Regions from separate parts of the Homo sapiens genome. Here all the other regions are linked to region 1. The links come from fine-mapping of genetic effects on gene expression. A gene starts in region 1. Each other region holds a variant in brackets. All regions are shown on one strand. Distances are between the middles of the regions.

The links. PIP is the estimated chance that this variant, and not a neighbour inherited with it, causes the effect. A credible set is the group of variants that fine-mapping cannot tell apart.
Region 2: its variant is the best candidate, but not a certain one, in a credible set for the expression of TMEM97 in skeletal muscle (GTEx, PIP 0.58).
Region 3: its variant is the best candidate, but not a certain one, in a credible set for the expression of TMEM97 in pancreas (GTEx, PIP 0.72).
Region 4: its variant is the best candidate, but not a certain one, in a credible set for the expression of TMEM97 in sigmoid colon (GTEx, PIP 0.83).
Region 5: its variant is the best candidate, but not a certain one, in a credible set for the expression of TMEM97 in activated naive CD4 T cells (Schmiedel 2018, PIP 0.67).

Annotation. Positions count from the first base shown.
Region 1 is chr17:28,317,038-28,322,142 of GRCh38, reverse strand. TMEM97 (transmembrane protein 97) reads right to left here and starts at 2,943. Exons shown (of 3, transcript NM_014573.3): 1 at 2,778-2,943. The coding sequence starts at 2,903. RefSeq lists enhancers at 2,820-2,879, 3,360-3,619, 3,839-4,664.
Region 2 is chr17:28,287,926-28,293,030 of GRCh38, reverse strand. It overlaps the pseudogene KRT18P55. Among named protein-coding and RNA genes, the nearest start is that of TMEM97, 29 kb to the left of the region's middle. The variant G/A (reference allele first, on the strand shown) is at 2,632.
Region 3 is chr17:28,229,067-28,234,171 of GRCh38, reverse strand. No RefSeq gene overlaps it. Among named protein-coding and RNA genes, the nearest start is that of TMEM97, 88 kb to the left of the region's middle. The variant T/G (reference allele first, on the strand shown) is at 2,776.
Region 4 is chr17:28,389,621-28,394,725 of GRCh38, reverse strand. The region is part of intron 7 of SARM1 (sterile alpha and TIR motif containing 1); the gene reads right to left. It overlaps SLC46A1 (solute carrier family 46 member 1), which reads left to right. Exons shown (of 5, transcript NM_080669.6): 5 at 1-84. Among named protein-coding and RNA genes, the nearest start is that of SLC46A1, 14 kb to the left of the region's middle. The variant A/TAA (reference allele first, on the strand shown) is at 2,446.
Region 5 is chr17:28,295,085-28,300,189 of GRCh38, reverse strand. It overlaps the pseudogene KRT18P55. Among named protein-coding and RNA genes, the nearest start is that of TMEM97, 22 kb to the left of the region's middle. The variant TAC/C (reference allele first, on the strand shown) is at 2,653.

The sequences.
Region 1 (5,105 bases):
TAGGTGATCTCCTACAGGTTTTTTAACTCTAGGGAAACATTCCTTCTATTTCAGGAAGAAAATGACAGATGTTAAATTTTGGCATTTTTCAAAGAGAATATGAGAATAACTCAAGGCGTTTATTATTATTTGCCCCATAGAGAAGCAACAAAATCAGCATTTCCTACACCAAAGCAACAAGAATGGAGGCACAGACCTTCCATGCCAGGATGCCACCGAGCTAATGCCTTCAAACATCATCACACACACAGATACACACACACCCAGGATGCCCGTGCTAATGCCTAAATCTCACACAAACACACACACACACACACACACACACACACACACACACACACAGGTTCTGGCCAGATGCTGCCTGCACTGGCCCTTGGGCCTTCTGCAGTAAGTCAGCATTAAAAAAATAAAGCTGACGCTGGGCACGGTGGGTCACACCTGTAATCTCAGCACTTTGGGAGCCCGAGGCAGGAGGATGGCTTGAGCCCAGAAGACCAGCCTGGGTAACACAGTAAGACATCATCTCTACAAAAAATAAAAAATTAGCCAGGTGTGGTGGTGTGCACCTATAGTCCTAGCTACTCAGGAGACAGGTGGGAGGATCTCTTGTGCTCAGGTTCAAGGCTGTGGTAAGCCATGACTGCATCACAGCACGCCAAGCCTGGGTGACAAAGGACCCTGTTTCTAAAAAAAAGACTGAGAAAATTTTATCAAATGTAAACATTTAAATGGGATCTTTATGATATGATGCTGAGCACCTTTTAAGTGTATTTTGTTAGGGGTGAGCAAGACGGGCTTGTGAGAATGGCACATCCAGGAAGGATAAAGAAGACAACAGCTGTGAAGTCTGGAATGGCTACATGGAGTAGCAGGCTAATTACCAAGTATTAAAAGGTCCTATAACACCAGAGATTGTAAACAGGCAGCCTGTCTGAGTATTGCTGGCCACACAGGTTTCAAAAACCACAGATAGGCCAACACTGTAGTAGATTTTCCTTTCTTCAGGGCAATTAATGGTTACTGCAGAGCTGCGATGACCTCTTCGGTCTTTGGGAAGAGTCTGTACTCTCTGGCCCTGTAGTAGGCTGAATAATGGCCCCCAAAGATAACCACATCCTAATCCCTGGAACCTGTGACTATTACTTTATTTGGCAAAAGGGACTTTGCAGATGTAATTAAGGATTTTGAAATGGGAGATTTTCTGGGTTATCTGGTGGGCCCTGAATGTATGACAAGTGTCTTTATAAAAGCGAAGCAGAGGGAACTCTGACTACAGAAAGGGAGGCAATGTGATGACCCGAAGCAGAGATTGAAGTGACGTGAACACAAGCCAAGGAACATTGGCAGCCACCAGAAAATGGAAGAGGCAAGAACCAGATTCTCCCCTGGAGCCCTCAGAAGGAGTGAGCCCTGCCTTGATTTGAGCACTGTAAGATTTCATTGTGAACTTCTGGCCTCCAGAACTGTAAACAAATAAATCTGTTAAATCACTACATTTGTGGTAACTACAACAGCAATATGAAAACTAACCCACCCTGTATATGTTTGAGCTTATAATTTAACTCAACTCTCTCAACAGTTGAGGAGGATATAGAGCCCTGACCTGCCCAAGTCACCTCCAGTTCTTGGAAGAACCAAGTCCCCAGACTGCAACTTGCTACACGCTACCTACGCTTTTCCCATGCAAAAGGAGGTCAGAGGTCTTCCAGTTGTGTTTGGTTCTAGAAGCAAACAAAAAAGAGTGACTTATGGGAGTGGTAGAACATTCTTGAGCCGTGGCCTTTTTGGGAGAGTTAGGCCCCTTGAAAAGTCGATGGAAGCTATATTCTCCTTGCAGGAAACAAAAGGCACACACACTTGCACCCATTTTTGGGAGTTCATGACCCTCAGGTAAAGAACCCCTCCTCGGCAGATAAAAAGCATTTAAGGAAAAACAGACGCAAAATAAAATCTTCGGGTAGACAAGTCAGTCCTGCCTACAGTTATAGATAAGATGGAGAAACAAAACTGAGGACAGGAATTCCATGGAAGAAGGTCACAGGGTCCAGATACGAGAAAAAAACCTCAACGAACCGGGAAACTAAAACTATAGCTTTGAAGAAAAAAACAAAGCATTAAAGCAGAGTTTGGGGTTGAAAGAATGCTCTCCAACAACCAGGAAATCGGGATTTTCACCTTTATTTTTACTCAGGAGATCATTGTTACTCGAACCCAATATTGAAGAGCCAATCTGAAAAGATGGCAATTTACTCCTGAGCTCTGGAAGTTGCTGGAACCTGATCTCGAAGCAGTGACGATCTGTGAACGCCCCAGCTGCACCAACCAAGGTGCTAAACCTTCAGACAGGTCTATTTCTACTCGGATTTTTTCTTTGGGATCAGACTGGTATTTTAAAGCCCTTCCAAACAAACAAACAAAAAACCAGAAGCTTAAAGCAAACCTAACATGTGACTTTGGACACCACTTCATCCAGACTACTTCCCTCAGACACTGACAACCGGCCAGAGGTGGAATCGCGGGAAACCTTAAACCCAGGGAAGAAGTGACTTTAAAGGAAACAAAGCGTTCGCCCCCGCCGCTTGGGAGAAGGGGCTGGGATAGAGACAAAGCCCGAGGAAAACACCGAACTAAAGTTGGGTTAGGAGCGGGGGAGGCATGGGCAGGACCCGAGAGAGGCAACTGGAACCCAGAGTGCGCGAGCGCGGAGGAGGTGAAGGCCCTGTGGACGCAGCGCCGGGAGAGCCTCAGCGGGCCGGGATAAGAGGGGCGCCCCTCACCTCGACTGGGTAGAGCTCGCGCGGCAGCACCGCCTGCAGGTCCATGAACAGGGTGATGGGGATGTGGCTGAGGAAGTAGAGGCCCAGCAGCCACTCCACGCAGCGCCTGGTTGCCGGAGCCCCCATAGTCTGTCGGTTGGGCCTGGACCCGCTGATGTGAGAAGAGGGGCCAAATCCGCGCGCCTTCCCAGACCCACGCGCCTCGGTCGCCGCCTTGCCCCCGCGAGGGCTAGGCAGACCGCTTCCATTGGCTGGCGAGAAGAGGAGGCTCGTGGACAGGGGGCGGCACTCCCCACAGGGCGCACCCATTGGTCCGTATAAGTATAGCGCGTGGAGAAGGCGTCTCGTAAGCCATTTCCATTGGCCGCCAGGAGCGCCGTGTGGGCGGGGCTTAGTCACGCCGTTCGGCGCGCGGCTACTCAGTGTAGATTGCGGTTGTGAGCGCGAGCCTAGCGTTTCGGTGCTGGCCGCGTGGTATCCTGGTGTCCCGGCAGCTGCCGGCGGCGCTCCCTTCCCTCGTGGCTCCGTTCGCCACTACAACAGCAGTATGAAAACTGCACTGGCCCTTGGGCCTTCTGCAGTAAGTCAGCATTAAAAAAATAAAGCTGACGCTGTGCACGGTGGGTCATGCCTGTAATGTCTGCACTTTGGGAGCCCGAGGCAGGAGGATGGCTTGAGCCCAGAAGACCAGCCTGGGTAACTTAGTAAGACATTATCTCTACAAAAAATAAAAAATTAGCCAGGTGTGGTGGTGTGCACCTGTAGTCCTAGCTAGTTCGTGTACTAGTGACCAGCGCCTGTGCTGGGCCGCGGTACCCCGGTGCAGTGCGGCCGTCACGGAGCAGGGGTCGCAGAGCGGGGCACGAGCGCCGCGGTGCAGGTTCCCGGCCCAGCCGGGGTTGCGGGTCTGGGGAGGCAGCTGGCCGCGGTGAACAAAGAAGCAGAGGGGAGGACTCGAGGGACGTAGGAGGCAGTAAAATGGACAGGAATCCTCACCGGCTGTGGAGCATGAGGGAAGGTCAAGGATTCGTTTACACGTTCAGCAAATACTGATGTTCATCTCCACGCTGGGCGCAGGCCTGTCTCGGGGCAGGATCGCCGAGGCTGCCATTTGCTAAGAGGGGACACAGGGCAAGGGAGTGCGAGGAAGGAATGCAGCTTGGACTACGTGGACCTTGAGTGGGCTGCAGCGTTGGGTGGAGGAGGCAGTTGGGTGAGCCTGTCTGGAGTCGTAAGCTTGTGAGGCATCCGCCTTTGATGGCGAGCAGAGGGCCTGGGAGAGATCCTGGGGGAGCTCCAGCCTCAGGTCATGGGAGGAGGGGACTGAGATAGGAGCGTACTAGCAGGGGGCTATGTCACAGGGAGGGGCAGCCTGTCAACACTGAGTGATGCCCGCCTGTGGCCCTGTGGGGAACAGTTGTGTCGTGGGGGCAGGAGCCAGGGAGTAAGAAAGTGGGGAAATGGAGGCAGGAAGTGTAGACAGCTGGTCACGAAGGGGAGAAGACATGGGGCAGTAGCTGGAGAGAGATGCACTCGAGAGTTTATTTTGCAGGTGAGAAAGACTTGAGCTAGTTTAGTTTTGACAGTGGGAGAGGTTACCCCTACTCGAGAAGAGCAGGAAATGCGGCTCAAAGCCCTGGAGGAGGCGGAGGGAATGGAAGGATTGGGGTGGGTTAGGTGGGTGCACTGCGCTCCGCCCAGCTTCCCCTTCCCTTGGGGCGCTGTGGGCTAGGACAGAGGGATTATGGCAGTGTTGAAGGCCCAGCTGAGGTGGGGGGCCGCTGACCCGGAGGCCCCAATCTCTTAGGCTGTGTGCTTTGCATTTCTCTAGTGCGGGGTCTACCCAGAAGAAGGCTGTTGGACCCCTACAGAGTTTGGGTTCAGAAAAGCGAAAGGTGGCTTTGAAGAGCTGAAGAAGAGTGATTGAGGTGCAGAAGGTTGCAGTTCAAGCTAGGTAGGGGGAGAGGGAGAGGTGAGGCCAAAGGGGGCTGTAAGACAGGGAGACAGTGGAGGCCTGCTGAGGAACACGTGCCAGCGTGATGGGAGTCACTGGGCCGGAAGGGTGGGAGCTTATGAGGAGGGCGTGCAATACCTGAATTCCTGGGGTCAGGAAGAGGTTCTGCCCGTGGGAGTGTGCGGCTGAAATGGAGTGGAGGGGAAGGTCTTTGGAGATGAGGTCAAGGGAAGGCCACCCAGGGTGGTGGTGGCGAAAATGCCACTGCACACGGGGGAGTAACCAGAAGGAAGGTGAGCATGGGATGAGAGTGGAGGGGAAACTGTGTGGACATGGCCTTGCGGAGGGAGGAGGCCGCTTATCCTGACCTTGAA
Region 2 (5,105 bases), 29 kb after region 1:
ATGGAGTTTCACTATGTTGGCCAGGCTGGTCCCGAACTCCTGACCTCGTGATCCGCCCATCTTGGCCTCCCAAAGTGCTGGGATTGCAGGCTTGAGCCACCGCACCCAGCCGCCTTCTTGGTATTTTATAGACTAGGCATTGCATGTAATTTCTGGGCTTATGCTTTTGTAAGCTCTTTGCATTGACTAGTTTATTGTCAACTTGCCTTTTTATTTGAGTTTAGGACTCTAACATATCTAACACGCAACCATCCACTAAAATTTTAAGCCTGGTCTCTTTGGGCTTTCTTTATCAAAGGCTTAAAAATTATCTTGACCCATGCAAGGCTTTTGCCAACAAAAGTTGCAGTCCTTGAGGCTCCAATGCCAATATCTTGTCACTGGATAGATGGGAGAATAGGGCGTGCAGACTCTGAAGTGAAGTTATCTGTGGCAGGATACAAATTGAACTTTGTAAACTGAGTTTATTTTTGTACTTCTATTTTCATATTCATGTTTTGTTCTCCCTTAGTATTTGCTAAAATATTTCAGAAGTTTTAAAAAAATTATCATATGTGGCAGATAAGTGATTGTTAGTATTAAAAAATAAAAGACCTGCAGAAAATATATGTTGACAAGATATCTGAAGGAAACAACACAAAGAAAGCACAACTGATGAGAAATATTATGAACAATTATTTATTGTAGAAGCAGAAGATGTGTTTAATTCAGAGTAAAGCAAGAGTGAATGATAGTTGTATTTTGTAGCAGTTGGACTAGATTCAGTTCTGGAAATTGTTTTATAACCTTTTGGCAGTTTTGAAATGAAATGTAGTTCAACATTTTTATTTTTCTGTGAAATACATTTAGTCAGTAGGTGTAGCCCAGTAGGTGTAGACTTACATTGTCTAAGAACTGTTTGATGATTTGGCTGAGTCTTTGGTCACAGACAAAAGTTTAGCCCCTGGGAAAAATAAGTGGGATCTGATATTATTTCATATCTCACCCTGTCTAGAAGTTTCGATCAGTACATTTAGACAACCAACAAATATTTACTGACCTAACACTACATTCTAGTTATACCAGCTGTAAATACTGTATGACAAGGAGAGAGTAGATAAGATGGTTCCTGACCTTCAGGTTTATTTTCCAGTCTCCCAAGCCTTATTTGTTTAAACTGCTGTAGACCTTTGAAGTTTCCTTAAAGCCAAGGATGTTTTCTACTTCTGTGTACTCCTTTCATGCTTAGAATTAAGTATGTGATTGGTCTGAATATTTAATTGAAAAATCGTTTCAACCTCCTTGTGAGTAGGAAGTCTCATTAATTTTTGCATAAAAGTACTTGGTGCAGGATATAAAAGCAGAGTGCTAATATTTGGAAATATGAGATCTGGGTTTGAGTTTGGCACTACCAATTCCTATAAGTAAAGGGACAAGGTACCACCACTGAATTATTTTCCTCAGCAATAAATGGAAATTAAAATCTCTACCCATCTTCTTAAAGAGTAGTTATGAAGACAAAGTAAGTGAACTCACATTATACAAACTGTAAAAGTGCCATATAAATGCTTATTATTAATACCTATTGTATAGTACATAGTTATTTTAACTGAATTAGAGATAATCCATCCTTAGGTCTTCCAAGTCTAACAACAGTACTAGTTAATATGCTTTGTATGTGATAGATGTTGGACTTCAGGATCTGTGCTTTTAATGTTATATGTGTTTTAGGACCCCTAAATTCCTAATTTTGGTGTTGGTTTCACTAATTCTGAGCTCACTAGTCATCTCTACTTCTGAGTCTAACTTCTAAAAAATCATCTAAAAAGAGCTTCAGTTACTCAGTAGTGGTGTTGGGACAACTGAATAACAACCCAGAATTTAAATAACTGGATCCCCATTGTCATTCCTTACCCCAGATAGATTCCAGATGAATAAAAGCTTTAAATGTAAAAAATGAAATCATAAAATTATTAGGATGAACAATGGTGGAATTATCTTAAAAATAATATTTGAATAAGAAAAACTTTTCTAAGCTTAACCCAAAACTTAGAAGCCATAAGACATGGACAAATATGCCTAGTATTCCATTATTGGAATGCTAAGCATCTGGGAGTTATTCGTGTCCTACTGTTCAAGGTCATTGCCAAGGTCTGATTGCAAAAATTTAAAAAATTGCAACCTCAGGCATAAATGGGTTAAGAAAAGTATAAGGCCAGTCACAGTGGCTCACACTTGTAATCCCAGGACTTTGGGAAGCCAAGGTGGTGGATCACTTGAGGCCATGAGTTCAAGGCCAGCTTGGGCAACAATAAGACCTCGTCTCTACAAAAAATTAAAAAAAAAACAGATTAGCCGGGTATGGTGGCATGCACCTGTATTCCTAGCTATTTGGAAGGCTGAGGTGAGAGGATCGCTTGACTCCAGGAGTTTGAAGTTGCAGTGAGCTATGATCCCGCCACTGTACTCCAGCCTGAGCAACACAGCAAGCCTGCCTCAAAAAAGGAAAGGATAAATTTGGTTATATTTCATCATAACAAAGTCAACAAACAAATAGACTGGGAAAAATATCTGTAATATCTCATTATAGGCAAAGAACAACTTTGCTTCAGGGATTTATCAGTTTAAGAAAGACCTAAATATAATAGAAAA[G/A]GGGAAATGGTATGAACACTGTGTACAGAAAGGCAATATAGATGGCCTTTACTTTTTATTATTTATTTTTTTGAGATGGAGTCTTGCGCTGTCGCCCAGGCTGGAGTGCAATGGTGCAATCTCGGCTCACTGCAACCTCCAGTTCTCAGGTTCAAGTGATTCTCCTGCCTCAGCCTTGTGAGTAGCTGGGATTACAGGAGAGAGCCACCACACCTGGCTAATTTTTTTGTATTTTTAGTAGAGACGGGGTTTCACCATGTTGGCCAAGCTGGTCTTGAACTCCTGACCTCAGGTGATCCACCCACCTTGGCCTCCCAAAGTACTGGGATTACAGGCGTGAGCCACCATGCCTGGCCACAGATGGCCTTCAAATATATGAAAATATTCTCAACCATTCTCATAGTAAGAGACGTGCATATTAAACTATGAAATGTTAGCTTGGTAAGATTATGGGAAAATAGGTACTTACACCATAGCCATGAGAATAGAAATTGGTGAAAGCCACTACAGAGAACAATTTAGATTACTTAAAAATTAAAATGGAGGTATTCTTGAATCCAGCAATTTTTTTTTTTTTTGAGACCATGTTGCTTTGTTGCCCAGACTGGAGTGCAGTAGCATAATCATAGCTCACTGCAGCCTTGATCTCCTGGGCTCTAGTGATCCTTCTGCCTTAGGCTCCTGAGTAGTGGGGACTACAGGTGCACACCACTATGCCTGGCTAATTTTTAAGAAACTTTTTATAGAGACAAGGTTTCACTATGTTGCCCAGGCTGGTCTCAAATTCGTGGGCTCACGCAATCCTCCCACCTTGGATTCCCACAGTGCTGGGATTACAGGTGTGATCCACCATGCCTGGGCTAGTCGTGCAATTTTTTTTTTTTTTTTTAGATGGAGTCTTGCTCTGTCGCCCAGGCTGGAGTACAATGGCGCGATCTTGGTTCACAGCAACCTCTGCCTCCCGGGTTCAAGCAATTCTCCTGCCTCAGCCTCCTGAGTAGCTGGGACTACAGGCACCCACCACCACGCCTGGCTAATGTTTATATTTTTAGTTGAGACGGGGTTTCACCATGTTGGTCAGGCTGGTCTTGAACTGCTGACCTCATGATCCGCCCGCCTCAGCCTCCCAAAGTGCTGTGATTACAGGCGTGAGCCACTGGCCTGGCCATATTCATGCAATTAACAAAATTTTTAGGATATAAAATTCTTAAGCATTTCTTCCTGGTTACTAAATAATTAATATAACACACAGTTGCTTCCTGTGTAATAACACGTACATTCCTTTTGTTGATATTGAAGCAGATTTTTCAAAGTTTTGTTAGTTTTATTTGGAATATATCTCCAGACATCTCACACATCTTTTAAAGAACATTGTATTATGTTTTGGGATTGAAATAAATAAATGTAAAAATTTTACTTTATAAAATCATTAGCTGAAAAAATGTGTTAAGAGAGATGAACATTCTCTACAGCTTGGGTAGTAAAACTGAGGCATTTTATTGTGAAATATTAAAATGGTGCATTCTGTGGGTATACAGGAGTGTGCCTGTAAATTTATGTTTGTATTTGCTTGATGATGAAGATAAAAATTTGTGTAACGATAGACTCTCTGAAGGGAAACTGAGTTGCATTTTCCTGTATTTAAAAAATTTGATATCGGCCGGGCGCGGTGGCTCACGCCTGTAATCCCAGCACTTTGGGAGGCCGAGGCGGGCGGATCACGAGGTCAGGAGATCGAGACCATCCCGGCTAAAACGGTGAAACCCCGTCTCTACTAAAAATACAAAAAATTAGCCGGGCGTAGTGGCGGGCGCCTGTAGTCCCAGCTACTTGGGAGGCTGAGGCAGGAGAATGGCGTGAACCCGGGAGGCGGAGCTTGCAGTGAGCCGAGATCCCGCCACTGCACTCCAGCCTGGGTGACAGAGCGAGACTCCGTCTCAAAAAAAAAAAAAAAAAAAAAAAAAAAAAAAATTTGATATCATGTACTTGTATTACTATTCAAAAAATATAATTGTTTTAGAAAAGACCTAGAGTGGGCAGAGTGAAAGCAGAGTAGGGTTGGGGCATTTCTTCGGTTTTGCTTATGTATACCTCCTTCCCAGTCTTGTTTCAGTTAGGAAATAAATGGTGACTACAGTAGAGTAAGGCCTGCATTAGGTAAGTCTCAACAATATTTAGTCTACATTTTATGACTAAATGAAAATTAGATTTTTTTTTCCACTAGAAATGAGGTCTTGCTATATTGCCCAGGCTCCTGGCCTCACACAATATTCCCACCTCAGCCTTGCAAAGTGCTAGGATTACAGGCAGAAAACTAGATTTGAATTCAATACAATAGAATAGAAACATGTAATGTTACAATTTAGGCCTTATGGTTAAATTAGAATGCTAATTAATATTGCACTAACTTCTGACCTGGTGTGGTGGCTCACACTTGTAATCCCAGCACTTTGGGAGGCTGAGGCAGGAGGGTA
Region 3 (5,105 bases), 88 kb after region 1:
GCTAGGAGCCGCAGTTGTGCTGGCTGTGCATAAAACCACCCATCTAGGCCAGGAGTCACTTGAAAAGTTGTTAGTCCGGTATTTCTACATCTTGCATTTGTCAGCCCTTGCCAAAACGGTGACGCAGCGGTGTGTTACCTGCCCAAAGCATAATGCGAAGCAAGGTCCAGCTGTTCCGCCCGTCATACAAGCTTATGGAGCAGCCCCCTTTGAAGATGTCCAGGTGGACTTCACAGAGATGCCAAAGTGTGGAGGTAACAAGTATTTACTAGTTCTTGTGTGTACCTACTCTGGTGGGTGGAGGCTTATCCAGCACAAACTGAGAAAGCTCGTGAAGTAACCTGTGTGCTTCTTCGAGATCCTATTCCTAGATTTGGACTGCCCTTACGGATCGGCTCAGATAATGGGCCAGCATTTGTGGCTGACTTGGTACAGAAGAGGGCAAAGGTATTGGGGAACACATGGAAACTGCATGCTGCCTACCGGCCTCAGAGTTCCAGAAAGGTGGAGTCGATGAATTGGACTATCAAAAATAGCTTAGGGAAAGTATGTCAGGAAACAGGATTAAAATGGATACAGGCTCTCCCTATGGTATTATTTAAAATTAGATGTACCCCTTCTAAAAGAACAGGATATTCCCCTTATGAAATATTGTATCATAGGCCCCCTCCCATATTGCAGGGACTTCCAGGCACTCCCCGAGAGTTAGGTGAAATTGAGTTACAGCGACAACTACAGGCTTTAGGAAAAATTACACAAACAATCTCAGCCTGGGTAAATGAGAGATGCCCTGTTAGCTTATTCTCCCCAGTTCACCCTTTCTCCCCAGGTAATCGAGTGTGGATCAAGGACTGGAACGTAACTTCTTTGTGCCCACGGTGGAAAGACCGTAGTCTGTCGTCCTGACCACTCCCACCGCTGTGAAGGTAGAGGGAATCCCAGCCTGGATCCACCACAGCCGTGTAAAACCTGCAGCACCTGAAACCTGGGAGGCAAGACCAAGCCCAGACGACCCTTGCAGAGTGACCCTGAGGAAGACGACAAGCCCTGCTCCAGTCACACCCAGAAGCTGACTGGTCCACGCACGGCCGAAGCATGAGGAAGCTCATCGTGGGATTCATTTTTCTTAAATTCTGGACTTACACAGTAAGGGCTTCAACTGACCTTACTCAAACTGGGGACTGTTCCCAGTGTATTCATCAGGTCACTGAGGTAGGACAGCAAATTAAAACAATCTTTCTGTTCTATAGTTATTATGAATATATGGGAATGTTAAAAGAAACTTGTTTGTATAATGCCACTCAGTACAAGGTATGTAGCCTGGGAAATGACCCACCTGATGTGTGTTATAACCCATCTGAGCCCCCTGCAACCACCATTTTTGAAACAAGATTAAGAACTAGCCTTTTCCTAGGTGACACAAGTAAAATAATAACTAGAACAGAAGAAAAAGGAATCCCCAAACAAATAATTTTAAGATTTGATGCTTGTGCAGCCATTAATAGTAACAAACTAGGAACAGAATGTGGTTCTCTTAACTGGGAAAGGAGCTACAGAGTAGAAAATAAATATGTTTGTCATGAGTCAGGGGATTGTGAAAATTGTGCCTTTTGGCCATGTGTTATTTGGGCTACTTGGAAAAAGAACAAAAAAGACCCGGTTCATCTTCAGAAGGGGGAAGCCAACCCTTCCTGTGCTGCCGGTCACTGTAACCCACTAGAACTAATAATTACCAATCCCCTAGATCCCCATTAGAAAAAGGGAGAACGTGTAACCCTGGGGATCGATGGGACGGGGTTAAACCCCCAAGTTGCCATTTTAATTAGAGGGGAGGTCCACAAGCGCTCTCCCAAGCCAGTATTTCAAACCTTTTATGAGGAGCTGAATCTGCCAGCACCAGAACTTCCGAAAAAGACAAAAAATTTGTTTATCCAATCAGCAGAAAATGTAGCTCATTCCCTTAATGTTACTTCTTGTTATGTATGCGGGGGAACCACTATCGGAGACCGATGGCCTTGGGAAGCCCGAGAGTTGGTGCCTACTGATCCAGCTCCTGATGTAATTCCAGTTCAGAAGGCCCAAGCTAGCAACTTCTGGGTCCTAAAAACCTCAATTATTGGACAATACTGTATAGCTAGAGAAGGGAAAGTCTTTATCATCCCTGTAAGAAAGCTTAATTGTATAGGACAGAAGTTGTACAACAGCACAACAAAGACAATTACTTGGTGGGGCCTAAACCACACTGAAAAGAACCCATTTAGTAAATTTTCTAAATTAAAAACTGCCTGGGCTCATCCAGAATCTCATCAGGACTGGGCAGCTCCCGCTGGACTATACTGGATATGTGGGCACGGAGCCTACATTCGGTTACCTAATAAATGGGCAGGCAGTTGTGTTATTGGCACTATTAAGCCGTCCTTTTTCTTATTACCCATAAAAACGGGTGAGCTCCTAGGTTTCCCTGTCTATGCCTCCCAAGAGAGGCATAGTTATAGGAAACTGGAAAGATAATGAGTGGCCCCCTGAAAGGATCATACAGTATTATGGGCCTGCCGCATGGGCACAAGACAGCTCATGGGGATACTGAATCCCCATCTACATGCTCAATCAGATCATATGGTTGCAGGCCATCTTAGAAATAATTACTAATGAAACTTTGACTGTTTTAGCTTGGCAGGAAACCCAAATGAGGAATGCTATCTCTCAGAATAGGCTGGCCTTGGACTACTTGCTAGCAGCTGAAGGAGGAGTTTGTGAAAAATTTAACTTAACCAG[T/G]TGCTGCCTACAAATAGATGATCAAGGACAGGTGGTTGAAAACATAGTCAGGGACATGACAAAGGTGGCACATGTGTCTGTACAGGTTTGGCACGAGTTTGATCCTGAGTCTTTCTTTGGAAAATGGTTTCCAGCTACAGGAGGATTAAAAACCCTCATTGTAGGTGTAGTGCTAGTAATAGGAACTTGCTTGCTGCTCCCCTGTGTATTACCCTTGCTTTTTCAAATGATAAAATGTTTTGTTGCTACTTTGGTTCATCAAAAAACTTCAGCACACGTGTATTATATGAATCACTATCGCTCTATCTCGCAAAGAGACTCAGAAAGTGAGGATGAGAGTGAGAACTCCCACTAAAAAGTGAAAATTCTCAAAGGGGGGGAATATGGTACGAGACCACCACTTCTCCTGTTGTCCTTCCCAGTTTCTCCCCAACCTCCCCTTTTCCCTAGTTTATAAGACAGGAGAAAAGGGAGAAAGCAAAAAGTTGGAAAGAAACAGAAGAAAGATAAATAGCTAGACGACCTTGGCGCCACCACCTGGCCCTGGTGGTTAAAATGATAATAATATTAACCCCTGACCAAAACTACTGGTGTTATCTGTAAATTCCAGACATTGTGTGAGAAAGCACTGTAAAACTTTTTGTAGTGTTAGCTGATGTAGGTAGCCCACAGTCACATTCCTCACACTTACTTGATCTATTATGACTCTTTCACGTAGACCCCTTAGAGTTGTAAGCCCTTCAAAGGGCTAGGAATTTCTTTTTCGGGGAGCTCGGCTCTTAAGATGCGAGTCTGCTGATGCTCCCGGCCGAATAAAAAACCTCTTCCTTCTTTAATCCGGTGTCTCAGGAGTTTTGTCTGCGACTCGTCCTGCTACAGCAGCCCTAGCAAACTAAATAGCAATGCCATCTTCATCCAATTCTCTGGAAATAAGCGGGAAGCCAGCTACAATGTAAGTCCAACTACCCCAAGAATATCGTGCTGGAGAGCCCATTTGTAGGTACGACAGTCAACAGCCCCGGCTGAACTCAACAGCCGGCACCAGCATGGGAGTGAGACTCCTCAGGCATCAGCCCGGTGGATCATTTAGATAACTGCAGATCTGCCAGCCTCTGATGGTATCCGCATGTGAGACTCAAAGCGAGAACTGCTGAGGTGAGCGCTTCCTGGTCCTGACCCACAACATCATGAGTGACATACAATGGTTGTTTGAGGCTGCCAAGTTTTAGGGTAACTTATTATACAACATAGTAACCAGAGCACCTACCCTCTCCCTTCCCCCACTTGCCACTGGCTGGAACACAGATGAGGTCATGGCAGGCTGTCTTCAGTCCTGTCAATGACATAGATGAGGGCATGGGGAAGCCACAAATGAGGAGCCTGGGCTTTTGGATGCCCTCGTGGAGCAGAGAGGCCAGCTCCCCAGATGTCACTTGCATTTCAGGTAAGAGAAATAAATTTCCTTTCTGTTTAAGTCACTGTTAATTCTATCTGTTTTTTTAAGCCAAATCAATATCCTAGTAATATCATATATGTAAAACGAACAGCTCAGAGTCTAGCACATAAATAAGTGCTTTTTGGAAAAGGTAATTATTGCTATTATATTAATTATTATACTAATAATAGTTATTAATAATATTATTACCCTAAACTGCTCAACACTCTTCAAAATGAACATGAGGTGGACCCATGTCACTGATGGTCAATGAGACATGACAAGCTGGGCAAAAATTGTCTGTGGTCATGCCTAATTCATACCAGGTCTCTCTTCCATCCACCTTAAACTGACTACAGCTCTCCCAGGCAGACCAATAGATAAGGGATCACAGACACCAGCGCACAGACACATCCTCCCACTCCCCACCCACACAGTGAGCTGAAGCTCCGGGTAGCCACTGTATGCTCCCATCCCACCTGTCCTATCGCAGGAGAGAAGACAGGCAGCAAAATGGGATGGAAAGTGGGTCTAAGATAATGAGTGGGGAGAGGGAGCCAGAGAAACTAACTCCATCCCCAGGAAATCAGGCAAGGCTTCCGGGAGGAGGTGACCACTATCCTGAGAGTATCTTCCAGGCTGAAGAGAGGGAAAGGGCTCTCTGCAAGCAGGGACAGTGGCCTGGGCAAAGGCACAGAGCATCAGAATCCACATAGCCAGTGACCTACAGCTGCCTCTTCAGCTTCACCCTTTCAGCTCTACCTCCAGGGAGGCTGGAGGGCAGCACAGGGGAGGGTGGGTGTCAGAGCCCTGTGGCCCCCTGGGGACCTGTGTCCAAGCAGGGACCTCCTCTGCAGCTATGGCAGAGTTAGCTTTAGAGTCTTCTCTTCTTCCA
Region 4 (5,105 bases), 73 kb before region 1:
TCAAAGAAACTCTATACTTAGTCTTATTTTCTGAATCTCATTATTTAAGGTTGACATAATAAACAACTAATAGTAAGTAAAGTGCTTTCCTGAGTTCTGTGAGTCATTCTGGCAAATTGAATCTCGGGGTGTCATGGGCACCCCCGAATTTGTAGCCAAATCAAACAGAAATGTGGCAGCCTGGGGGCCTGGGCCTCGTGACTGACATTTCAGAATTGAATTGAATTGCGGGATACCCAGTTGGTGTTGGCAAGCTGGAGAATTAGTGGTTAGTGTGGGAAAAACCCCAAACAATTTGGTGTCAGAAGAAAAACATCACACTCCTGCGTACAGGTTGATCCATCATGCGCCCTGCCAATTGTACTCCTTACTTATTTCTCAAATCCACTATTTTTCCCTACCTCCACCCCACTACCACCCTCTTCCAATCCCCATTATCTTTAAGCCCCCACCAGGTCTTTCCTCATCCACGCTTGTCTTCTCTAATTCACTCTCCACATTGCCCTTTCATGTAGCTAATATTTGCAAAATGCACATCTGACAAATTAGGTCCTGTCACCCCCTACTTAAAATTCTTCAAGACTTTGCATGGTCTTAGAATAAAGTCCAAACTCCTTCATGTGGCCTGTGAGACCCTATGTGGTTGGCCACAGTCCACTTCTCAAACTCTACCCCTGCCCTGTCCTCCCAGACACACAAAATAAGCTTCCTTGTCCTTCCCCCTTGATAATGCCCATTCATTTTTCTGATCTGAGCTCAATCAACTCTTACACAGGGCAGTTGTCTCCCACTGCCCTGACCAAGTCAGTTCCCCTATTATAGGCTCTGCAGAACATATTATAGTTGCAAATTTTAATTAATTAATGGGTAAATTACTCAGTATTTGTCTTCTCTGCCAGACATGAGGAGGGATCATATCTATTTTTCACTGACCTTATATCTCAGCATCTTTCACAAAGCCCTTATAGTTAGCCCTTGCTAAATATTTAATAGATGGATGAATGAATGAATGAGAAAACATAGCACAGCAGTTAGGGCTGCACTCTGGAATCATCAAATCGGGGTTTGCACTGAGTCTCTGACACAGGCTCTACGACCTGAGGCAAAAATAATAGGTTCTCAAAGTCTCTGTTTTCTCTTTTCTTTCTTTCTTTTTTTTTTTTGGCGGGGGGCAGGGGAACAGGATCTCACTTTTTGCCCAGGCTGGAGGGCAGTGGCACCATCAAGGCTCACTGCAGCCTCAACCTCCTGGGCTCAAGCCATCCTCCCACCTCAGCCTCCCAAGTAGCTGGGACCACAGGCGTGTGCCACCATGTCCGGCTAATTTTTTGTATTTTTTAGTAGAGATGGGGTTTCACCATGTTGCCCAGGCTGGTCTCAAACTCCTGGCCTCAAGTGATCCTCCCACCTTAGCATCCCAAAGTGTTGGGATCACAGGCCTGCACTACCACACTCGTTCCTCTGTTTTCTAATATATAAAGCAGGATTAATGATAGTCCCTGTCTTCAGGATTGTTCCATGGAATAAGCGCAACATTCCATGGCAAGTAATTAGAACAGTGCTTTGCATGCAGTGTATGCTTAATACGTAATAGGTGTTATTATTTCCTCTTCTGTAAAGTGGGGATAATAAAACCTACCTCAAAGCGTTGTTCTGAGGAATTATTTGCTAGTAATCGGGTTCCATTAAGTGCTTATTGAATGTTTTTCTTCCTCTCAAGAGGGAACCAAAGGGATTTTACTTTTTTGAGTGCAGTTCACTTGTGGTTTTTCCCTATTGATTACCCACTAATGTGGCTTCAGGGAAAGGAGTTTTAAAACCAGAGGCAATTAAGCACCAGAAACAACCAAAGAGGGATGACGGAGCCTCTGGGGCCGGTCCAAGACAAAGGCTCCTCTCACCTCTTTGCCATCTGCTGGGACGACAAGGGGTGCCAAGCATTCTTGGGAAGTGGAGCCTTCCTGGGGAAAGAACATGCGTAACTTCGTCCTTGACTGGCTTCCTGGGGAGCCGCTCCATTTTACAGATGGAGAGAAAAAAGCCCAGAGAGGAAGGGATTTCCTCCTAAGCCACACACACGCCCAGCCCACGAGGGGCCGGTCCTCTGACTCAAGCCTCGAGAGTCCAAGTCCAGGCTGTTTCAGCCAAGCCCTGCTGCCTTTCTGCTGAGCATTGGAATGAATCCTGAGCCTGCAGCAATTTATTTGGAAATTTTTAGAAATTTGTTTCATCCAGAATTATACAAAACCAAAGACAGTACAAATTATTCATCGCACAGATTCAGAGGCTGGCCAAGAAAGGGATAATGGCGGCCGTGTGTGGTGGCTCATGTCTGTAATCCCAGCACTTTGGGAGGCCAAGGCGGGCGGATCACGAGGTCAGGAGATCGAGACCATCTTGGCCAAGATGGTGAAACCCCGTCTCTACTAAAAATATATATATATA[A/TAA]ATTAGCTGGATATGGTGGCGTGTGCCTGTAGTCCCAGCTACTCAGGAGGCTGAGGCAGGGGAATCACTTGAACCCGGGAGGCGGAGGTTGCAGTGAGCCGACCAAGATCTCACCACTGCACTCCAACCTGGTGATAGAGCAAGACTGTGCCTCAAAAAAAAAAAAATAATTAAATAAATAAAAGAAAGGGATAATGGTTTGTTCAGGATCACCTAGCTGGTTGAGAACGAAAACAATTAGAGTCAAGTCCTCTGGCTGGGCACGGTGGCTCATGCCTCTAATCCCAGAACTTTGGGGAGCCGAGGCAGGCACTGAACTCCAGGCTTGAGCTCAGGAGTTCGGGACCAGCCTGGGTGACATAGCGAAACCCTATCTCTACTGGAAAAAAAAAAAAAAAAACGGAGTCAAGTCCTCTAACCTGGTAAATCTACTAGATATGTATGGCTCTCCCAGGCATGGCATCTCAGCTTCATCAGTATCACTTGTCTGCTTAATCATTGATTCAATTGTTCTATAAACTCCTCTACAGCCTCAGCCTCTCTCTCTCTCTCTTTTTTTTTTTTTTTTTTTTTGGTGCAATTGCATAGAGCCTCCTTTGTACCATGCATGGTTTTAGGCACCAGGGACACAGATGAATGAGGCAAGGTCTGAAGTCTCATGGAGCTCACAGACACTCTTTTCTTTCTCTCAAAAGGCTGCCTGCCACGTGCTCTGGGTTATCAGCCATGTTCTTCCTGGATGCTCAACTGCCCCAGTGCCCCTCCCCAAACCAGGCCTAGTACTCAGCCCCTCCTACATGGCCTCTGGGGCTTGACTCCACACTCCATGTGGACTGCATTCCAGTGTCAGAGCCTTCATCCTAAGACCCACCGCCCTGGCATCTTCTCCTTCATGGGCTCCTTGATTTCCAGTGCTTTAAGCACAGGTCTTCTCCTGCCTTTAGACACTGCTTTACCTGGTTTCCATGGTTCTTATCCAGCCAGTGGTGTGCTGCTAACTTTATAGTAACTAGCTATTCATGGGGGAAGAAAACCCAACCAGCCAATCAACCAAACTAACAAAACTTTGATTTGTAGTGGTTGCCAATTTCCTTGGTGTAAATACTCCCACCATGGCTGATGACAAGCTACCAACATGACATCACTGGATGTGGAGTTGTGAAGAGATACAATCATCTCTGGTGTCAACCGAATCCAGCCCTACCCCATCACCTCCCCTCACACCCCCTCAGAGCTGTGCCATAGAATGCAGTGTGGATCTTGGGAAAGTGATGAGCTTTGGAGTCAGATAGATGGAATTTGAAGCCTAGCTTTTCTGATTTCTACACTAGTAGTGCAGCCAGGGGAACATTATTCTACTTTTCTGAGCCTCAGTTTCTTCATCTGTGATATGGAGAAAGCAGTACCAAGATGTATGTGGGCTTTCAGCACTGTTCTCCTCCCTACCTTTATTCCTTTGCTCATGCTGTTACCCTGGCCTGGGATGCCTTCTATTCCACTTACCCAGATTCTTAAGATTCTTCTCAAGACCTGCTTCCTCCATGAAGTCTTCCCTGATTATTCCAGTCCTTTGAGGACTAAACTCTGATTTTTTTTTTTTTTATCTTGCCCAAATTCCTACCTAAGGAGCCTAGGGAGTCATGCCCTACAAACCATAAAGTCTTATCGGAGGAGGTTTTAATTTTAACCCTATATAGCGTGGTCTGCTTTCTAACCTGACTCTAGCATAACATCACATAATAAGGGAGGAAATAAAAATATTTTAACCCCAAATATATTTCCCTGCCATATCTTGAAATTGCTCCACAAGTTTGTCTCTTGTGGGAAAAGGCCACATTCTATAGAGAATCCCCTTCCCCCCATTTTTTTCTTTTTCTTTCCGGACTCAGGAGATAATCAACAAAGAGCCAGGCACCCTTATAAGTCTGATAAGAAACATTTTATAACCTACTCCCTCTGAAGTCTGCCCTGAGAACTTCCTCTGCACAATAAAACTTGGTCTCCACAACCCTTTATCTTAACCTAAACATTCCCTTTCTATTGATCCCAGGTCTTCAGATAAACTCAATTAATTATCAACTGGAAAAATTTAAAATTTACCTATAGCCTGGAAGCCCCTGCTTTGAGCTGTCCTGCCTTTCTGAACCAAACCAATGTACATCTTAAATGTATTGATTGATGTCTCGTGTCTCCCAAAAATGTATAAAACCAAACTGTGCCCTGATCACCTTGGGCACGTGTTCTCAGGGTCTCCTGAGGGCTGTGTCACAGGCCATGGTCGCTCATAGAGTCTGACTCTTTTCGTTGACACCTTGATGCTCTCTCCCTTCTCCAAACCCCTGTGGCAAGCAAGATGTTTGCTTACCTGGCTCAGCATTTACACCAACTTGTATGCGATCTAGTCATTTTGAGACAGGGTCCCACTCTGTTGCCCAAGCTGGAGTGCAGTGGTGTGATCTCCGTCTTCTGGGCCCAAGCGATTCCCCTGCCTCAGTCTCCTGAGTAGCTGGGATTACAGGTGTGCGCCACCATGCCTGGCTAATTTTTGTATTTTTTTAGTAGAGACAAGGTTTCACCATGTTGCCCAGGCTGGTCTCGAACTCCTGACCTCAAGTGATCCTCCTGCCTCAGCCTCCCAAAGTGCTGGGATTACGGGTGTG
Region 5 (5,105 bases), 22 kb after region 1:
GGCTCACTGCAAGCTCTGCCTCCCGGGTTCACACCATTCTCCTGCCTCAGCCTCCTGAGTAGCTGGGACTACAGGCGCCTGCCACCGCGCCTGGCTAATTTTTTGTATTTTTAGTAGAGATGGGTTTTCACCGTGTTAGTCAGGATGGTCTCGATTTCCTGGCCTCGTGATCTGCCTGCCTCGGCCTCCCAAAGTGCTGGGATTACAGGCGTCAGCCACCGCGCCCGGCCCACTTTGTGTTACATTTAACTGTTCTTTTGACAGCCCAGTTTTGAAAGCCAGGTTTGTATGGAAATGCTCTCACTCCACTTGGACTGCTTTCGGAAATAGTGTACTGCTTCATTTGCATGTTTATTTTAGTGCATTCATAATATAACACAGTCAGCATAATGTCTCATCTCCACTTAGCCAAAGATTGAGTTTCCTTTAAAAAAAAATAATGACAACAACAAAATGGGAGGGAGGAACAATTTTTGTCAGCATTGTTTAATACCTAAATCTTGGTGCCAAATATAGTTACAACATGAGTCTATTAAGAGATTAAACAAGGCCGGGCAGGTGGCTCACACCTGTAATACCAGCACTTTGGGAGGCCGAGGCAGGCGGATCAGTTGAGGTCAGGAGTTCGAGACCAGCCTGGCCAACTTGGTGAAATGTCTTCTCTACTAAAAATACAAAAATTAGCTGGGCATAGTGGTGGGCGCCTGTAATCCCAGCTACTCAGGAGGCTGAGGCACAAGAGTCCCTTGAACCCAGGAGGTGGAGGTTGCAGTGAGTTACTGCACTCCAGCCTAGGCGATAGAGTGAGACTCAGTCTCAAAAAAAAAAAAAAAGAGAGAGAGAGAGAGATTAAACAATAATCAACCATATACTCTTAGAGTCATTCTGCTATCCTTGCCCTTTCTAGAATTATTCAGTTGTAGGAATTATGATATGAAATAAGGATTTTCTGCACAGGTAAGTTTGTTTTCATAGTAGTAAAATAAGGGCCTGTTTACCTTTGTTTTCTGCAAACATTACTTATATTGAGACTTTTAATCTTTTTTTTTTGGGGGGTAAGAAAGTTATAAATAGATGCTGAGCACTGGGTAAGGGAATGCTTTTCCTGGCAGTTCATTTGGGAGGGGAGAAGGGAAGAAGCCTCAGCAGCAGTAGTGTTATATTAAGTTTTCGTGATGTATAGTAATGTGGAAGTCAGCACTTGGCATCAGTAGTGTTTCTAATTCTTTCAGTTCATATGTAGCAAAAATAACTTGCAGCAAACTTTTGTGTACCATAATGATACCATATATATATATATATGTATGTATATTTAAAACAATATATGTTTTGTTTTAGAAACAATTTTTCATTATAGTTTGCCTCCAGTTTTTGTTTTTTAAGAAGTATCCGGGGCTAATGCCTGTAATCCCAGGACTTTGGGAGGCTGAGGAGGGAGGATCACTTGAGCTCAGGAGTTCTAGATCATCCTGGGCAACATAATGAAACCTTGTCTCTACAAAAATGTAAAAAGTAGCCAGCCAAGGCCATGTGTGCCTGTAATTCCAGCTACTCGTGAGGCTGAGGTGGGAGGATTGCTTGAGCCCGGAAGGTCAAGGCTGCAGTTAGCTGTAATTGTACCACTGTACACCAGCCTGGGCAAGAGAGCAATAACCTGTATCAAAAAAAAAAAAAAAAGTGTCCTGATTTTCCCCCATCAAAGAAATAATCAGCTGCTTAGCCCAGTTTTGTAGGTTGTATGCTATTATAAATTTAAGAAGGAAATTGTCCTTTAAAAACAAAACACAACTGAGCATTTGGAAGGCTTAATTTTCTTCTGACTTCTAGTTAGAGAAGATAACAGTAGAACAATGTTTTTCTTTCCTCAATGACTCCAAAGAACATTTTATCATTGAATATGGAGATGTAAGACAAACAATTTAATGTGCAATATTTGGTTTTAATGCAGAAATTTGTGGTTTAGTCAGCTTTATAAATTGATTTCAGGAAATATGAGATTATTTTCAAATGGTTTACCTTTGTTTTCTGGTAACATTACTTATATTGAGACTTTTAATCTTTTCTAGATTAATACTATAAATTACATTTTAATACATATAGAATACCTTGTGTTTAGAATTTTTCAATCTTTTCCTTTGAATGTATAGCACCATTTTTTCTGATACGGTTAGTGCTTATTTTAGCCTTGTCTTCGTACTTCACAATAACTGTAAAAAGCAAACAACTGGACAAAGAGCTGCAGATGTTTCTGATAGCTTGACCCCTTAAACAAAAGCTGACATTTAATCATTGTTTTTAGCATTTTTTTTCATGTAGTTTACATTGGAATACCTTTTCCAGTGTGCTCCTGGGAAGATGAGACATTATGTATGTTGGTTTCTCCCCACTACGTGCACTAATGGTTCTTTTTATTTATTTATTTATTTATTTTTTGAGAGGGAGTCTCGCTTTGTCGCCCAGGCTGGAGTGCAGTGGCGACATCTTGCCTCACTGCAACCTCTGCCCCCTGGGGCCAAGCAATTCTCCTGCCTCAGCCTCCTAAGTAGCTGGGATTATATACATATATATTTTATATATGTGTGTGTGTATATATATGTGTGTGTGTATATATATGTATGTGTGTGTATATATATATATGTATATATATATATA[TAC/C]ACACACTTTTCTAAAACCAATCAAGTCTAGCCTGGATTTTGCTCTGATTGTTTTTTTCATTTCTAGTGGTGGGACAGTCTTACATTTACAACTTACTTTGTATCATGAAAGCCTGACACATAAAACAACTAAACACAATGTATATTATCTTTAAAAAAGAATCTTAAAGTGGTGCTGTTTAGGTGGTAGATATGACTGTATACGTACTTTGATTTTATGTTTTTTTTGAGACGGAGTCTTGCTCTGTCCCCAAACTGGAGTGCAATGGCACGATCTCGGCTCACTGCAACCTCCGCCTCTGGGGTTCCAGCAATTCTTGTGCCTCAGCCTCCTGAGTAGCTAGGATTACAGGCACCTGCCATCATGCTCGGTTAATTTTTGTATTTTTGTAGAGACAGAGTTTCACCATGTTGGTCAGGCTGGTCTTGAACTCCTGACCTCAGGTGATCTGCCCACCTCGGCCTCCCAAGGTGCTGAGATTATAGGGTGAGCCACCGCGTCTGGCCTATTTTATGCTTTTTAATGTTACTTTAAAACTTCATAAATGTATTCTTCCCCTTTTCCCTTTCCCCTTTTTCTCCATTTTAAAATGTTATGTACGAAAGTTGCCCAGCACACCATCAGAAAGGACCTTTATCCTATATGTTCTTCCCATATAAAATACTAGCCAGCTTTTCTTTTTACATTAGTGTCCCTCTTATTGGACACATTTACGCTATTATTAGCACCTTTTTGCATGCATATATGTAGAATTATCGCTTGCTCATCATCTGTTTAAGTGTCACTAGGCAGGGAAGAATATACTATTGGAATATTTTTGGTTTGTCTCTATGTTTTGTCTGTCAGGATAATATTGGACACTGCTTACTCCAGAAACATGGGTGGAAGCTGGGCCAGGGATTGAGAAAATCTCTTCAGGATAAGTCTTTACATTTACCAAAGAAAAAGAAAGAAAACTGTTTCTGATGCAGATCTTGTACCTGAATATATTTGTTGTCTTTCTAAAAAGGTGCTTGGGTTTTTCTGCCTCCCTGCCTTTCTACCCTTAGATTAGTCTATTTTTCCTATAACTGTATTTTAAGTCACTGTTAAATTTGCCAGTAATTTGCAAGAGTAAGCTGCTGTGTCATCGAAACTTTCAAGTCAAATATACTGTGTGTGGCTCAACCTGTTTTTAATTTTTTTTTTTTTTTTGGTGGAGGTGATGGGTGGGTGGAGTGAAAGGAATGCAGAATATCAGAGTATGCTTTATTTGTGCTATTTAGTAATGTATTGTGGCTTCAGTATTATAAAGAGAATCATCCAGTAGCAGAGTTTAATTTTTATCCTTTTAAATTCTCCCTGAAGCTGGTGATTGCCCTGGCTCTTTTGCTCTGCAATAAGAGATCTGTGTAGTGGTAGAAAGAAAAATTAACCCCCATGAAACATAAAATGAAAGCAGGGGTTTCTGAGGGCTCTCTAAGCAGAGAGGTTATTTCTCAGGTTCCTATCAAGGTCTGGAAAATGTATGGCTCAAAGTTTCCATTGCATTTGTTACCCTGTTTAACTATACCAGTCATTTGGATTATTTCAGCTTCTGAGTTCTTGCTAGTTGGAAACCAAGCAGCTGCATTCACTTTTTAGCTCTCTCGGATTCAAGAGCTACTGTTTGTTCTTTGCAGATGTGATGTGAATGCTGCCTCAGAAATTATGGGAATCATTGTGCCTGTACATCTGGTCATGGGGGAGCTTATTGTATAAGAGCATCTTTGGGGAGAAGTGTGCTACTGTTGACGAATTCTTTGAATTTTGTAAATTGATTTTGACAGTTTGAATGCTGAAGTCTGATCAATTCAAGTGTGTTGAGAGGAACAAGGACAGGTGTAGTGGCTCATGCCTGTAATCCCAGCAATTTGGGAGGCTGAGGCAGGAGGACTGTTTGAGGCCAGGTGTTCAAGACCAGCCTGGGTGACATAGCAAGACCCCATCTCTATTTTTTTAAAAAAGAAAAAATTAATTAATTAATTAAAGAGAGAGAGAGAAACCAAGAGGATAGGACTTGAAATATAGGACATTTCAGTTATTAAAACCTTTACTTTTTAAATTCTACTTCTGCAAATTCAGTGGTGACAAATGGGAGATGCTCAATAAATATATTTTGATGGAATATTCATCACTAAGCATTAACCTATTCTTTTGGGGAGTTCGAAAGGTGCGATTACCTTTAAACTTGTTTTCCAGTGGCACAAGAATTCTTTGCAAACACTACAAAGAATACTCTGATTAAGAGCAATTTGTATGGTATAGGCCACAGATTGGTTTTTGTTTGTTTGTTTGTTTGTTTGTAGATGGAGTCTCACTCTGTTGCCCAGGCTGGAGTGCAATGGCGCAATCTCAGCTCACTGCAACCTCTGCCTCCCAGTTCAAACAGTTCTCCTGCCTCGGCCTCCTGAGTAGCTGGGATTACAGGC